2 separate regions of the Homo sapiens genome follow, and region 2 is linked to region 1. Evidence: fine-mapped expression QTL. Tissue or cell type: whole blood. Region 1 holds a variant in brackets; the other region holds the start of a gene. All regions are shown on one strand. Distances are between the middles of the regions.

Region 1 (2,840 bases):
ACACTTTTGCCTAAATCAGAAATGGGCTACTTCCCTTGGCCACATCCAAAACAGCCCCTAGGACCGCTGATTCTATTGCCTAAGTAGTTCTGAAGCTCCCACCCCATCCCCCACCTCCTTCTTACTGCTAAGGCCTTAGTTTGAGCCTTCTAAATTCTCTTCTGCATGACTGCCATCGTTTCTAGACCTTCACTCTTATCCCTGCCCAATTCTTTCTCCAACCACTGTGAAGAATTTTTGTAAAATGCACACCTAGTCACTGGGCAGTGCCAAGTTCTCCCAGGCTACTTACTGTGGCACCTAAAGCCTTCTGCACCAGCCGCCTGTGCAACTGTCAACCCTCACTGCCACTCCACTCACTGATTCTCAGCCTGATCTGTCCTCCTTTGTTTCTTTGACAAGTGGATTATTCGTTTTCTTCCTGTCCTCTGGGATTCCATGTTAGACTGGCTGCTGACTGGCCTGGTCTGCCTAAAATCACAGACACTTTGCCACTTACCTCTCTAACCTAGGTGAAGGCCAGGGGCCTCCCTGTTCTGGCTCTGCTTAAACCCCTCTGTTTGGGTTGGGGCGCATGATGTCCCGTCACCTGATGTAGTTCATCCAATCCTCTTCTTGAGTGAAATCAAAATGGATTAACATAAACATGCATCTTCAATGAAAATAGATGGCTTGAAATGAAATCTATGTTAATCAATACTAAGATCCATCAAAAACACAGGCAGAAAAGCACCAAGACAGCACTAGAGTAAATGCTGCTAAAACATAAAGACAATACAAAGAATGTAACACATAAGGATAATTAAGTTATCCTTATAAACAATACTGGAGATGCATTCTAGGGTATCAGTTATTTCTGAGGCTAAGTGTTGCCCAAGGAACTTAAGACTATTGTCTGCATCCTGTTTGTTTTCCAGGCCCCGGGCTATTCCTATCCAAAGACATGGATATGACAAGGCCCTGCCATCAAGGTGCCTGCAGACTAGTAGGAGAGTCTGGTAGGAAAATAACCATATGATAAAAATGACAGAGGCGGCCGGGCATGGTGGTTCACGCCTGTAATCCCAGCACTTTGGGAGGCTGAGGCGGGCAGATCATGAGATCAGGAGATCGAGACCATCCTGGCTAACACCGTGAAACCCCATCTCTACTAAAAATACAAAAAAATGGCCGGGCATGGTGGTGGGCGCCTGTAGCTCCAGCTACTAGGGAGGCTGAGGCAGGAGAATGGCATGAACCTGGGAGGCGAGCCTGCAGTGAGCTGAGATCGTGCCACTGCACTCCAGCCTGGGTGACAGAGCAAGACTATGTCTCAAAAAAAAAAAAAAAAAAAAAAAAAAGCAAATACAGGACATGGAGGGTGGGAAAGGGGGGATGGACTACAGGAATAGCTTCAGGAAGAGAAGAGTGCCAAGGGAAGAGCAGGTACAGAGGAACTGGTGTTCACCCCCCGAAGACATCTGGGGCAGGCAAAGGGAAAATCAGACAGGTAGGCAAAGACAAGGGCTGCAACCATAAGGAGTCCAGACTTGATC[C/A]TCGGGAGCTTCGGGCAAAGGAGTAGCAAACTTGGATATGCGTTTTGGAAAAATTACTTATTTTATTAAACTGGAGTTGGCAAACATTTTCTGTAAGAACCAGGTAGCATATATTTTAGGCTTTGTGGGCCACACAGAACTGCTGAGTACTATTTTTGTTTAAGCATTCCTTTAAAAGTGTAAAAATCATTCTTAGTTTGTAGGCCATACAAAAACAGTCCACAAGCCCAGCAGTGTGCCCACCTCTGTTAGATAATATCAAGGAATCAGAGCTAATTTAGGCTGGTATAATAACGGCATTGTGGCTATGTTAGAACTTTTGTTTTTTTTTTGTTGTTTTTTTGAGACTGAGTCTTGCTCTGTTGCCCAGGCTGGAGTGCAATGGCACGTCTCAGCACACTGCAGCCTCCACCACCCAGGTTCAAGCGATTCTCCTGCCTCAGCCTCCCGAGTAGCTGGGATTACAGGTATGTGCCACCATGCTCAGCTAATTTTTATATTTTTAGTAGAGATGGGGTTTTGCCATGTTGGCAGGCCTGTCTCCAACGCCTGACCTCAGGGGATCCACCCGTCTCAGCCTCCCAAAGTGCTGGGATTACAGGCGTGAACCACCGCACCCAGACCTTTTTTTTTTTTTTTTAAATTCAGACTGAAGTCTGCAGTGAAATGGCATGGAATCTGGAATTTAAAATATTTCAATCAGGAAAAACTAAAAAGGGAAAAGTTAAACAGCAGAATCCTGATAATTGCTGAATCCAAGTGATGGGTATATGGAAGTTCATAAGAAAAAAACTTTAGGCCGGGTACAGTGGCTCACGCCTATAAGCCCAGCTCTTTCGGAGGCCGAGGCAGGTGGGTCACCTGAGGTCAGGAGTTTGAGACCAGCCTGGCCAACATGGTGAAACCCCATCTCTACTAAAAAAAAAAAAAAAAATTAGCTGGGCATGGTGGTGGGCACCTGTAATCCCAGCTACTTGGGAGGCTGAAGCAGGAGAATTGCCTGAATCCAGAAGGTGGAGGTTGCAGTAAGCTGAGATTGTGCCATTGCACTTCAGCCTGGGCAAGAAGAGTGAAACTCTGTCTCAAAAAAAAAAAAAAAAAAAAAGAAAAAAAGAAAAGAAAAAAAAGAAAAATATTTTAAAAAGATCAGGCAAGGTGCAGTGGTTCATGCCTGTAATCTCAGCACATTGGGAGGCTGAGGCAGACAGATCACTTGAGGCTAGGAGTTCAAAACCAGCCTGGCCAATGAGGTGAATCCATCTCTACTAAAAATACAAAAATTAGCCAGATGTGGTGGTGCACACC
Region 2 (2,670 bases), 26 kb before region 1:
TAAATTTTTATCTGAAAAATAAGTTTCTCTGCTTTAAAAAAGAAACTTTGAAGACCATTTTACAGAAGAATTGGTTTGCCAAGGTGGAAAGAGAAGCTCATCAGTGACGTGACTTAGCCAAAAGCACTGGTTATACCTCTATACCTCGGAGCCGACACTGAAAGCCCCGGCCATAGTCTTTCTGCCCCAAGGAAAGCCTGGGGTGGGGGTGGGTGATATTGTCAAGAGCCAGGCCCCAGCTCCTCATACACACAGCTCATTTGCTCTCCCTCCCAACCCCCACCTTCATACTTCTTCCACACGCATACCAAAGAAAATAAGAATCTCAAGGTTGGAAAATCCCACTTTACTTCAAGTGAAGTCACTGGGTTGTCCCCATGAAATATCTCCACAATGGGTGTGCTAGACCTTTACTCTCTGTGGCACCACCAAGACCCCCTCACCCTGCCAGAGCCCTCTGAAGTGTACTCAGAATGGAGGGGCTGGAAGTGGGGCCAGTGGTCCTGGTAGTCAGCCTCCCCTTCTGACACAAGAATTATCGTGGAACAGCTTGTGTGACCGATCAACTGGTCTCTCCATCTTTAAGCCATTGTCTTGTTGACTCTGTTACTGCAGAGTTTGGGGAGGTCTCATGGCTTCTCGCATCCTATTTCCTGAGCTTCCCTGAAGCCAACTTCTGGCCACTGGTATGTGATGCGAGCACAGTGCCTCCTCCTGCTCCTCCAGGAAGCTTCTGCTGATTGAACGCAGGCCAGATGGCGAGATCCGGAGCAACCTTCTTAGATCAAGGGAAGAAAGGGGCACAAGAGGGGAGTAGGTAACAAGATAAAAGGAGCTCCCTCCCTGATGACTACAGAGCCATCGTGGCAGCCCTGGGCCTCCATTTCAGACGTTCATCTTGCCTAAGCCACCACCATCAGGGTCTCAGTCAGTCATCATTCTCATTTACTCGGGTGGCTGGGTGAGGGCGGAATACTACCTTCCAGCTGTCTGAGATTAAGCCTAAGCCACCACCATCAGGGTCTCAGTCAGTCATCATTCTCATTTACTCGGGTGGCTGGGCGAGGGCGGAATACTACCTTCCAGCTGTCTGAGATTAAGCAGAACAGCAGCTAAAGCAGTAACAGCAGGTCTCCTTCAGCAGCTTGCCACAGGGAAGAGGGTCCCGCGTGAACCGAACTCAACTTCCACCTGCGCAGAGGTAGCTACCATTTGCGTAGAGGTAGCTGGGTCTTTAAGGTTAGAGGGAAGGCGCAGGGAGGGAGAGACGGCGGGTGGGGGTTGAACAAAGTGGAGATTCACAAAAGCAGACTAGGGCGGGCGACGTGATCAGATGACCTGTGCGGGCGGCAGCCTCCTGCCCTCCTCCCCTTCGTGCGCCGGCTGGAGCGAAGAGTTCTTTTGACAGCCGTGAGCTTCCCCGCCAGGAACTTACTGGGGCTGCATCACCCTAGAAACGTGGCTTTGGGCTGTGGAAACGCTGCCTCTGTGGAAGTCTCTCCTCGCGGGGGTGGACGGGTCGCTGCGCGCCCAGCGTTCTTCTGCGGTTCTCACAGCCCGCCGCCGCCGCCGCCTCGGGGACCTTTGCGGGGAGGCCTCAGGTCAGCGCCGCCCTTGCGATGGCGGGAGAGCAGAGCGGCCCCAGGGCCTCTGAGCTCCGGCCCCGGCACGTCCCGCCCTCTCCTCCGCTTGCGGGAGCCGGGGCGCCTCGGAGGGAAACCTTCCGGACACAGGCCGGGAGAAGAGGGGCCGTGGCGCCATCGCGCAGCTTCCTGGTTTCGGCCATGTTTTTTTTTTTTTGAGACGGAGTTTCGCTCTTTTTGCCCAGGCTGGAGGGCAATGGCGCCGTCTCGGCTCCCTGCAGCCGCCGCCTCCCGGGTTGAAGGGACTCTCCGGCCTCAGGCCGCGGTGTTCTTGTAAATTAGAACCGGCCTATGCGCCAAGCGCGGGTCTCGCGGCTGCGGAGAGAGGCCCAGCAGGGGGCGGGGACGCCGGGAGGCGGGGCCTGGCCGAGCTGCGCACACCCGGGTGGTTCTGGCTACGGGTACCCGGACCTGCCCAACGACCGTTCTCCATTCCCGACCTCCGCACCCTACCCGGTCCGCAGGGCACCTTCCTCCTCTCTCTCAGGCACGTCCTCGACCTCAGTTGCCACGTGCACATGCTGGTGCCTTCCAGGTCGGTCTTTCTCCACCAGACTCCACCTGGAACTTTCTTCCTTTTCGTCCTGTGCTGGCCTAACCCCTGCTCGGCCTCGGCCCTCAGCTGCCGGCTCTAACAAAGCCTCTGTCTTTCCCAGACCCCTGTGACCAGGTCAGGCTCTGCTCCCTGCGTTCCTCTCTCCTTGCTTCCCTCCTCCTCCCCTCCCCAGAATCGCTTGAACCTGGGAGGCAGACGTTGCAGTGAGCTGAGATCGCACCATTGCACTCCAGCCTGGGTGACAAGAGCGAGACTCCATCTCAAAACAAAAAACAAAAAACACAACTCTTGCTGGCTCCTTGATTTTAGCCCAGTGAGATTCACTTCTAATTTCTTTTTTTCTTTGAGACAGTCTGTTCTGTCACCCAGGCTGGAGTGCAGTGGCGTAATCATGGCTCACTGCAGCCTCAACCTTCCTGGACTCAAGTGAACCTTCCACCTCAGCCTCCCAGGTAGCCGGGACTACAGGGG

The links. PIP is the estimated chance that this variant, and not a neighbour inherited with it, causes the effect.
Region 2: it holds the start of LINC00847, and the variant in region 1 is fine-mapped to the expression of LINC00847 in whole blood (INTERVAL, PIP above 0.99).

What each region holds. Positions count from the first base shown.
Region 1 is chr5:180,855,639-180,858,478 of GRCh38, forward strand. The region is part of intron 1 of ZFP62 (ZFP62 zinc finger protein); the gene reads right to left. Among named protein-coding and RNA genes, the nearest start is that of ZFP62, 4.2 kb to the right of the region's middle. The variant C/A (reference allele first, on the strand shown) is at 1,536.
Region 2 is chr5:180,829,629-180,832,298 of GRCh38, forward strand. LINC00847 (long intergenic non-protein coding RNA 847) reads left to right here and starts at 1,329. Exons shown (of 3, transcript NR_045679.1): 1 at 1,329-1,601. HEIH (hepatocellular carcinoma up-regulated EZH2-associated long non-coding RNA) reads right to left here and starts at 1,990. Exons shown (of 1, transcript NR_045680.1): 1 at 326-1,990. It also overlaps a transcript of ZFP62 not described here. RefSeq lists silencers at 1,555-1,604, 1,965-2,094, 2,535-2,670.